2 separate regions of the Homo sapiens genome follow, and region 1 is linked to region 2. Evidence: fine-mapped expression QTL. A gene starts in region 2. The other region holds a variant in brackets. All regions are shown on one strand. Distances are from middle to middle. Region 1 has its middle 29 kb from the start of SNORD3I. Region 2 holds the start of PPP1R3B (protein phosphatase 1 regulatory subunit 3B).

Evidence for each region.
Region 1: its variant is fine-mapped to the expression of PPP1R3B in whole blood (TOPMed, PIP above 0.99).

The regions. Positions count from the first base shown.
Region 1 is chr8:9,085,362-9,090,884 of GRCh38, reverse strand. It overlaps a transcript of ERI1 not described here. Among named protein-coding and RNA genes, the nearest start is that of SNORD3I, 29 kb to the right of the region's middle. The variant T/A (reference allele first, on the strand shown) is at 2,785.
Region 2 is chr8:9,148,351-9,153,350 of GRCh38, reverse strand. It overlaps PPP1R3B (protein phosphatase 1 regulatory subunit 3B), which reads left to right and starts at 2,693. Exons shown (of 2, transcript NM_024607.4): 1 at 2,693-2,788. PPP1R3B-DT (PPP1R3B divergent transcript) reads right to left here and starts at 1,626. Exons shown (of 5, transcript NR_183348.1): 1 at 1,435-1,626. RefSeq lists silencers at 1,689-1,938, 2,439-2,708 and enhancers at 2,059-2,298, 2,345-3,293.

The DNA of each region.
Region 1 (5,523 bases), 63 kb after region 2:
CACTCAGAAACAGCTTGGAATATTTCTTCTCTGTCTTACTCTCCTCTCAAGCCTCTCAAATTGCAATTATACTGGAAAGTTCATTGTTTTATTGTGTTGTTGTTGTTTTTTGATCTTGTGTCTTTCCTCCACTTATTATTACTTTGAAACCATTTTCTTGTTTCACCTATTTCTTTTCTAAAGCACAATCTATAACTGAGGACATAGTTTTATCTATAGAGGAGGACCCCAGAGAGAGTTTCCTTTCTCATTTCTTCTCTTTTGTCCTATTTAAACTTTTAACCGTGTGCATGTGTAACTTTTTCCATTTAAAAACGAATACTCCTAAAACATCATCTTCACAGACTGTGTAATTCCAACGTATTCTACTTCATTTTCCACTCCTGGTCATGTAGATTTTTTTCCAATATTTTACCATAATCAATAAGCTAGAGTAAGTACCCTTAACATAGATCTTCATCTGCATTGCTGATTATTTCCTTTGGCTGGATTCCTAGAACTAGAATGATTGGGTCAACCAATGAGAACTTTGAAAGGCTTTTACATCACTGGAGAAACAGAACAAGTTGGCACCAAGGTGTCCTCCCACCAGCAAAATGCACCTGAGCTCACCACACCCCTTCTCTGTCGGCCCCTCTTCCTTTCCTCTCTCACAGCATATCAGGAGGAGGAAGAAGCAGTGGAGTTTCTGCATAATTGGGTCAAGCAAGTGTCCTGGGTCCTTGGATAAGGTTTGCTTACAAGGAGAAGGTGGGATTTTCATTACTGGCTCTTGGTGCCTGTCTGTGTCTCCCGGTTGCACATCCGCACACGTGCAGATTGGAAACATGGCACAATGAGACTGATGACAATCCAAAAAAATGCAAATGTGATATCATCTCAGCCGTCATCCTTGCTTTGCAAGTAGCACACCCTCTTTGCCAACGGTCGAGTCAGGAGCCGTTCTCTTGGATAATTTCAGGGAATCTGTCTCATTGTTCACATTCACATCCTCCTCCTCCCAATCTTATTTCCATTCCCACCAGCAAAATGCACCTGAACCCATCCTGCCACACCTTTCATTTCTTCACTGAAAAGCTAAGCGGACTCTGCCACCTAATCCCTCTGTTTTTCCTAATGGTGGGAAACAACAAAAACCCAAGGCATCGCTCCGGCTACACAAACCTCGTCATTTTGTACAGCTAGTGAAGAAGAGGTGGGGAGAACAGCATAGGATTGGAATCTGTGGGCTCCGGGCAGGACTTTGATGGTGACCAGGAGTGGAGTTCTGAAGGTAGAGCCAGGAGTCTCCACTCAGAGCCAGTGGGGCTCCTCTCTGCTTCCTCCTCATAGGGCATTTTCTTCCCTCTGAAGTTTGCATCATCTAGGGGACCACAGTGAACCACCAGTGGTCTATGGAACATACTTTGCAAACCCTTGTGTCCAAGTCATTCTCAGAAAAGGAAGAAGAATCTTAAGTTCCCCACTGGAAAGAGATCCAGGCTGCGTGTGGTAGCTCACACCCATAATTCCAGCACTTTGGGATGCCAAGGCAGGAAGCCCACTTGAAGCCAGTAGTTCAAGACCAGCCTGGGCAACACAGCAAGACCCCATCTCTATTTATAAATATTTTTAAAATTAAATAAATTAAAGAAGGTGAGAATGGTCTGGAATATGCCAGAATCATCTTTCCCTTTGGCCTATATGTTTTACAGGCAACAAAGAAGCACAGGTGAGAGAAACTCAGTGAAGAAAAGGAAAGAGGAGAGTGAAGCGGGAACCATGTTATTTCCCTAATCTATTTGAGGAAACCGAGCCTTAGTGATGGCGAATAACTTGCCAAATATCACACAGTGAGGAAGTGGTTGAGCCACAGTTCTACCCTAAGTCTGGCTAACTCTAAAGCCAAGGCCACCACATAACACTGTACGTGCTAACCCTGCAGCTTAGGAACTAACGTCACGCTGCTCTCCAGGGTAGGAGGAGCACGTAGTGAACCTATTAACTCACCCGCATGACCTGGTCAGGGAATGTGTTTGGCCTGTTCTGCAGAGACACTCATTGTCAACTCCCTGGTTAAACCCTCCAGCATGCTACAATCCAAAGGCAATGACGTGCATGTGAGCAATGAGGTGGATTCTCTGAAATTACCCAGGAGAACAGCTCCTGACTCAGCTGGTGAAAAGGAAGTGTGCTGCTTTCAAACAAAGGATGACTGACTAGCAGCCAGCTGAGCCCACAACTTGCACTGGCTGAATGGGCATTGCTCCCCCTCTGCGCCATCTCTCCCACCACTTATAAATGGGTGGATGGGCAACACACAGAGAGATACTCACTGTTAATCTCCCAGCAGTTTACACAAACGTCCGCTTGCATCACATGTCAAATTTCCTTCCCACACAAGCTGTGGTTTGCCGGTCGCCACTCCTGGTCCTTTCCTCTTTCTCTTTAATGATAATAAGAATGTCGAGAGCTTTAGCAGAATGGGCACAACTTGAGCTAACGGAATACCGTAAATGCAATTTCAGCGACATTAAATAGTTCAATGTTTAACAGCAAAGAAAGTGGGAAATTGAGTCAGTGAATGGCTAATTTGACCTGAATTATTCAGAAAACACTTTAATTTTTTTTTTTTTTTAATTTACAGAGGCTCAGACACAGAACAAATGCATGCACTGGTGTTAAATGCAGAGAAGAGAAGGTGTTATCTCCTGAAATGGATTCTGCTTTCTTCGGGGTTAGAAGGCCTCCTTTTTGAACTGACCTCAACCCTGCTGATTTTGTCTCCTTTCCTGGCCATGAGGA[T/A]CAGAAATCAGCAATGATTTCATAAGTAACTTCTCATGAAACCACATACCGCAGCGTGAGTCACACATGTAGCTCTGTGCACCTGTAGGCGTATATGCCATTCTTTTTAAATCTGCCAGGAATGTGATGATCAACTGGACCCAGTTTGCCTGGGATTTTCCTTATTTGTACTGAAAGTCTTGTATCCTGGGAAATCCCTCACTTCCAGGCATACTGGTGTGATTGACCATCCCACCCAGGAAATGAGGAAGAAGCAAGGGGTCCTTAATGTGTTGTCCCTACCTGAATCTGCCCCTTTCCCTCTCTGTGAAAGTAGGGAACCTCAAACCCTTGTGGGGCCTGATGCTCCCACCCAGCTGCATGGGGAGGACATTTATGTCAACTTGAGCAGAAAGTAGGGGATCTAAATTTATCTATTGAAATGTGTTGCTACATCTCCAAACTAAGATGTCTGTATCTGCGTGTGCATTAAAACACATATAATTACACAAGGAATACATGATCACTGTATAAAAATAAAAAATAAAAATCAAAATAAAAATAAGGGCAGGGTGCAGTGGCTCAAGCCTGTAATCCCAGCACTTTAGGAGGCCGAGGTGGGCCTAAGGTCAGGAGTTCGAGACCAGCCTGGCCAACATGTTGAAACCCTGTCTCTACTAAAAATCAAAAAAAAAAAAAAAAAAAAAAATAGCCACATATGGTGACATGCACCTGTAATCCACAGTTACTAGGGAGGCTGAGGCAGGAAAATGGCTTCAACCCGGGAGGCGGAGATTGCAGTGAGCCAAGATCGCTCCACTACACTCCAGACTGGGCAACAGGAGTGAAACTCCATCTCAAAAATAAATAAATAATAAATATAATTTAAAAATAAATAAAAATAAGATGAAGGTGGGGGGCAAGGGGAGGGAGAGCATTAGGACAAATACCTGATGCATGTGGGGCTTAAAACCTAGATGATGGGTTGGTGGGTGCAGCAAACCACCATGGCACACATGAACCTATGTAACAAACCTGCACATTCTGCACATGTATCCTGGAACTTAAAGTAAAATTCAAAAAACTTAAAAAAAAAATAAGATGAGAAGGTGAGAAGGAGGTCAAAGTTACTCAGAATCCTACCGCCCAGCACTAACTAGTTTAAAACTAGTTAAAATTTTGAGAATTTTCCTGTGTACACTTATAGATTATAATGTAGGCATATAAATGGGTATACATAATAGTAAGTCCATTGCAGGAAAACATACAGAATAATGGTTTGACACTCTTGCTCAGTCAACAGTATGAGTATTTATCCAAGCCAATATGTATGTTTTTACAACATCATGTTAATGGCCACATAATATTCTATAATGTGTGTTTATCACAGTTAACCACTTTGATTAGGTAGGACATTTAGGCTGCTTTTCATTTTTTACTGTTATAAACAGTGCTGAAACCAACAGGCTTCTTGCTATAATATTGAACACATCCTTACTTATTTTGTTACAATGCATTCTTAAGAGTCAAACTATGGGTCAAACAGAATGAATTGGTTGGTCGGTTGCCTAGTTTTGAGACGGTATCACTGTGACCCAGGCTGGAGTGACGTGGCGTGATCTCAGCTTGCTGCAGCCTCGACCTCCCTGGCTCAAGAGATCCTCCCACCTCAGCCTCCAGAGTAGCTGGGACTACATGTGCACATCACCACACCCATCTAGTTTTTGTATTTTTTGTAGAGACGGGGTTTTGCCATATTACCCAGGCTGGTCTCAAACTCCTGGGCTTAAGTTATCCTCCCACCTCAGTCTCCTGAGTAGCTGGGACCACAGGTGCAGGCCACCATGCCCAGCTAATTTTTGGTATTTTTGTAGCATTGGTGGTCTCACCATCTTGTCCAGGCTGGTCCTGAACTCCTGGGCTCAAGCAATTTGTCCACCTTGGCCTCCCAAAGTTCTGGGATTATAGGTGTGAGCCACCACACCTGGCCCGCTATCCCTGTTTTTTTAGCATTCATGGTAAATGCCGCAGTCTAGACAAACAAATTAGGACTTGAAAGAGGACGGGAGTTATTTCCTAATAGTAGGATAAAATTCTCTTTTCTGTGATTCCTCCTGGTTGCTCAAGAGATTATCTTCTAGATACACACAAACCAACACATGCATGCTTATGCACACACTTTAAAAAAAGCATCTTGATCATATAAGAGTTTGCTAAATTTGTCCTCAGCATGGAGACTGCCATTAACAAGTTAGAAAAAACCTGCTGTTCTGCGTCTCACAGACCTCAGCTAAGGAAAGACCACCATTTTATGGACACCAATCCCAACAGCTATACTTTGTTATAAATTAGCGTCACATATTCCTGTTTAATTCTTATTGACTCCTCCTCTAACTTTTACTGTCTCATCACTTAGAGTGAATCTAAATTAGGGGCCCTGAACTTTCTCTGTTAAGGGCCAGATAGTAAATACTGTAGGCTTTGTGGGCCATTACAGTCTTTATCACAACCACGACACTCTACAAGTTTAGTACACAAGCAGAGAGAGGCAATACATAAATGAATGAGTGTGGCTGTGTTCCAGTAAAAATTTATTTATAAAAAAAGATGGTAGGGCCGGGCGCGGTGGCTCAGGCCTGTAATCCCAGCACTTTGGGAGGCTGAGGCAGGTGATTACTTGAGGTCAGGGGTTCAAGACCAGCCTGGCCAACATGGTGAAACTCTGTCCCTACTAAAAATACAAAAATTAGCCAGGCATGG
Region 2 (5,000 bases):
TAATTTACTATGCTTAGCCACTGCTGTTTTCTGGTTTCATTTTTTTTTTTTTTTTTGGTTGGGGGAGGAGGGTTGTTAAATAAAATTAAAGCTGTAACCCAATGCCAGATATAATAGAAAGAACTTGGTGTGCATTGACTGATGCAGTAAGCATTGAAATTTTCCATTTTCACTTTCTCTCTTTGTTGCCATAAAATGAGAGGGTGAGGCAAGATCGTGTCTGAGGGTGGGTCCAGCTCTCAGGCTCTGGAGCTCTGCACTGCTGGGTCTCCTGGTAAAGCCCTCCTCTGAGCTTGCATCTCAGCTCTATCCTGATGGCAAAGACTGTGCTCTTTTCAAACTCATAGATGACACCCTCCTACCTACTAAGGCTGTGGTGTACCACAACTAAGTTTAACCCCTCTCTCCTGGTCTGAAAAAGTCATCTAAACCACAGGGGAAATTATTGACCATGGTTTCCTAGATCTATGCAAGAAAAATGCTCCCAAACCCTAATGCTACAAAGCTGTATTTACTTGTCCCAACTCTTTCCCGGTGTGGTTCGGATTACCCTTTGCCTGCATATGTTTTGCAATACCTCTTGGCTCTTCATCTTTGCCCACTCCTCCAGCATGCTCACTACACCTGAGAAACTTAGCCAGTACTTGGCTTAAAAATCTTCAACCTACTCATCACCTAACAAGAGAGGGTTTAAAGTTGGCAGAGGGAATATTGCACAGAAACGCTATTTGCCAACCACCTACCAATAGCTGACTTCACAAGTGGTCCCTTATCAGATCTGCCCATCAGAAAAGAAGGAAGAAGATTAATGATCATTCTTCAGACACCAGGACTCCCTCCGGGGAAGCTCTCTATAGAGCTAAAGGCTTGTATTGGATTATTGTCACCGATCACTGTTTTAGGCTTGCATTCCTAGTAAAATTGAAGCTGAGCCTGTATCCCTTACAGTAGAAACTCCCAAATGCCATATTCAACATAATGAGTTTTCAGAAAGCTAAATATATCCAATGGGAAAGACTGGCCATTACATCCTTCCTGCATTTCGTTGTTATTGCTATTAAAGTGTACTTTAAAAAATAAAAATAAAAGGATAGTAATAGAAGACAGCAGGGTTTATTTTCATGTCTTTCTTGGCAGTTTAAAAAGTTGGCAATCCTATATCAATTTCTAATTTTTTTCTAAAACTCTACTGGTCATTAAAATTAGAAAACTGGTAGCCTCATGCCTAAAGTGGCTAGTTCAGATCAAGTTACATGTAAACTGAAGAAAGGAAGAGCCTCTGATTCAAACTCTTTAAGGTCATCATTTTTTTCTTTTTCTAAGACCATTTTCTATAGATCTCAAGGTGCATAATATGCATCGCGGAGGCCCTGTAGATTTAGATAGCGATTATAACCGATTCAAGTCAGGAAATTTCTTCTGAAGTATACCTACCTGTGAAACCCTCCATATCTGGGGCGCTCTGTGCCACGGGTGTCAGACTTTTGCAAAAGCCCTGTCATTCTAACGGGACGCCCTCCTGTAGGAAGTTGCCCCCTGGCGCCCGTCCTCCGGCTTCTGATGAAACGGCGACCCACCACCCCCTTCCCAGACCCTGGCCCGCAGCCGGATCACTCCGGGCGCGCTGCCGATCACGTGGCGAAGCGGTGCTCCCCAGCGCCGTGGCTGCGCGCCCATTGGTCGGCGGCTGGAGTCCCGGGCGCGCCCATTGGCTGCGGGGGGCGTTCACGTGGCAGGGGGCCTGGGATGGACCCCGGGGTCCCGAGAGCTGGCAGGAAAGTTAAAGGGGGCAGCGCGGCCGCGGGGAGCTCGAGTCCCGGGTGACTGCTGGAGGGAGGAGGTGACCGCGCAGCTCTCGTGCACGGACGGACTTCGCCGCCCGCGGGGGGCGCGAACCCGAGCCCGGGCCCAGCTCCTGCCGTCACGGCAGCTGTCCCTGTTCCCCCAGGGCGTATGCTGCCGCGGGCTGGCGCGTCTGCCCTCGGGACTTATGAGCTGAACCCGGTACGTAGCTCCCCAAGTCTCGAGTCCGAGGGAAGGGCTGGGGACAACAAGGCGAGGGCGTGCAGCGGGGACCTCTTTGGGTTCCTGTCACCTACATTTTCACCGTGCGACTTGCACTGGCACACCGGGGCTGGAACACTCTAGGTAGCTGGCCCCAGGGAGCTGTTGCTTCAGCGTGGAGAGGGCGATCCAGGGACCGCAGCTGGGAAGCGCCTCCCGGGCCCACGTGCTCCACCGCGCTGCTGGGCCCGGCTGCGACCGTGACCCGGGAGCTGCGGCTGCGGCGGCTGATCCCTTTACCACCTGTTGTTCTGGCTTCGAAACTAGCACAAGTTCCCAGCCCCGGGTCCCGAGAGGTCTGGAGACTTCTCCAAAGTTGGGTAGTGGGGTTTGGAGCTTAAGGACAAGCCGCTTCGTCTCTCTCCGGGCCTTATTTTCCCTATAAAACGCGAGGAAATACACTTGGTAGGCTCTCAGGCCACCGAGGGCGACGGGACCTAGCACGATCCCCGTCCCGGGCTGGCGGAGGCCAGGCGGCCGCGCGGGGGTGCTGGTGTCGCGCTGCTTGCTCCGGCCGGGGTTGCCCCTTTGCCGGCCCCGCCCGGGTGCGATAACGGGCTCCTCCTCCTCGTCGTCTTCCTCCCACCGCCGACATCTCCGGGAACCCAGCCCAGGCCCTGCCTCCCGGACACACCGACGCTCACGTAGTCGCGCTTGCCACAACCCTGCGGGCTCTCCGATGCGGCGAGCGAGCTGGGGAGGGGGCTTCTCCGCGGCCCAAAAGGTGGGTGCGGCGCGAGGCCAAGGAGGCTTGTAGGGAGGTTGGGGGCGGAGTGCAGCCCTGGTCAAACTGGACGGAGGGGACAGAGTCGGAGAGTAACTTGTGGGATCCTCCAGCCTGGAGAGCACTGGCCTGCTCCTGCGTCTCTTTGGAATCCAGAAAAAGGGGTGTGGAAGGCACAGTAGCTGCAAAAGAGGGAGTGGGGGCCGGTAATGACTTACTGGAAGATTTGGGGCCTGTCAGAGCACTGTTTTCTGAAAAAGAGGAGAAAACAGAGGAAAGACTGGACTTGGGAACTTGGAGACTTGGAAGGTGTTGGAACCTGTGGTCTGAGTGGCGGGGGCCTGCCTGGGAGACCCAGGGTGCAGCAGAAGAGACAATTAGAGCTTTGGTCTGGGAGGAAGAGGAGGAGAGGAGGAAATGTTTCCTTGGGCAGAGTTGTCCAGGAGCCAAAACTAAAGTGAAGACAGCTGGAGGACTTACACAAAAGTACAGTTGAGGTATTTAGGAAAAAAAGTTAGTGGGAAGAGAAGCGGCACCAGGGGTGGGTCGCAACATACAATGTCAGGGCCAGCAGGGACCTTGGAGGGGACCTCAAGCCCAGAGCAGCTGAGTGACTCGCTCAAGTAGCAAAGCAAGGTGCGGGCATTCTTAGCCTAGTACTCTGTTTTCCCTCGTACGTTTTTAGACGGCAGGGGCTGTGTCATTTGAACTTGCCTCTTTCCTAGAATATGCAACTGTATTCACAAATGTCAGTCTCCAAGATGCTTTGGATGATGGGGACAGGATCAAGGGGTACAAGGAGCCTTTAAGGCTGTGAATAGGCCCCCATGGTCTGAGTACAAAGGGGAAAGACATGCACTCTCTTCATGCTGGATCAGTGAAACCTTTTGGAAGGGAACACAGAATTGTTGGAGGGAGGTAGATGGCCATGTCTTTAAAAATGAAAATTATAACCTGGTTGTGAATGTTTACTGAATGCAGTTCGGCAGCTTTCAGTGTTCCTGGTGGGTTGCTTGTGCATCTGATTTTTTTGTTTGTTTGGTTTTGTTTGTTTGTTTTGAGACGGAGTGTCGCTCTGTCGCCCAGGCTGGAGTGCAGTGGCGCCATCTCTGGCTCATTGTAAGCTCCGCCTCCCGGGTTCACGCCATTCTCCTGCCTCGGCCTCCTGAGTAGCTGGGACTACAGGCGCCCGCCACCACGCCCAGCTAATTTTTATTTGTATTTTTAGTAGAGACGGGGTTTCACCGTGTTAGCCAGGATGGTGTCGATCTCCTGACCTCGTGATCTGCCCGCCTCGGCCTCCCAAAGTGCTGGGATTACAGGCGTGAGCCACCACGCCCGGCCTTTTTTTGCCTTTTTTTTTTTTTTTTGAGACGTAGTTTCGCTCTGTCGCCCAGGCTGGACTGCAGTGGCGCCATCTCGGCTCACTGCAAGCTCCGCCTCCCGGGTTCGCGCCATTCTCCTGCCTCGGCCTCCTGAGTAGCTGGGACTACAGGCGCCCGCCGCCACGCCCGGCTAATTTTTTTTTTTTGTATTTTTAGTAGAGACGGGGTTTCACCGTGTTCGCCAGGATGGTCTCGATCTCCTGATCTCGTGATCCGCCCGCCTCGGCCTCCCAAAGTGCTGGGATTACAGGCGTGAGCCACCACGCCCGGCCTTTTTGTCTTTTCTTACCAGAAGAAAGAGAGAGAGAGAATAAGAGAATGGAGGGGATAATGTCGTGGCCCTGATACAAAAAAGATTTCCTCCCTATGAAAGGTACAGCCAGAAAGTCAGTAGTTCAGCTGCCTGAAACCGTGAAGGTCATAGGGTTATTTTCTGTGCAGGTCTATAGTTATCACCATGGCCGTCTAACCTTGGCCAGCTGTCTTGAGAAGGTGTGTTATGAGTGGAACAGATAAAGCATTTATGCAAAACTATCTCCATGATCTGTTAGGGTTTGCCCTGTCTTAGCCATGAACACTGTAATCTACCCTCAAGCATGGCCCAGTCTCTCACCAGAGAAACTGATCCCTGAGCTCTGAGGCATCTCTATGGAAGCAAGTGTTTGAGAATTCATACCTACCTGGGAGCAGCACTCATACACTCATTCCTATCCTGCAACTGGTATCAGATCCTGAGTCCTGCTCTCATGGTTCAAATGTATGTCCATAACTTCTGGTTCTTTTTTTTTCCCCCTTGGCCAACTTTGGTGACTCATATTCCCTGGCCT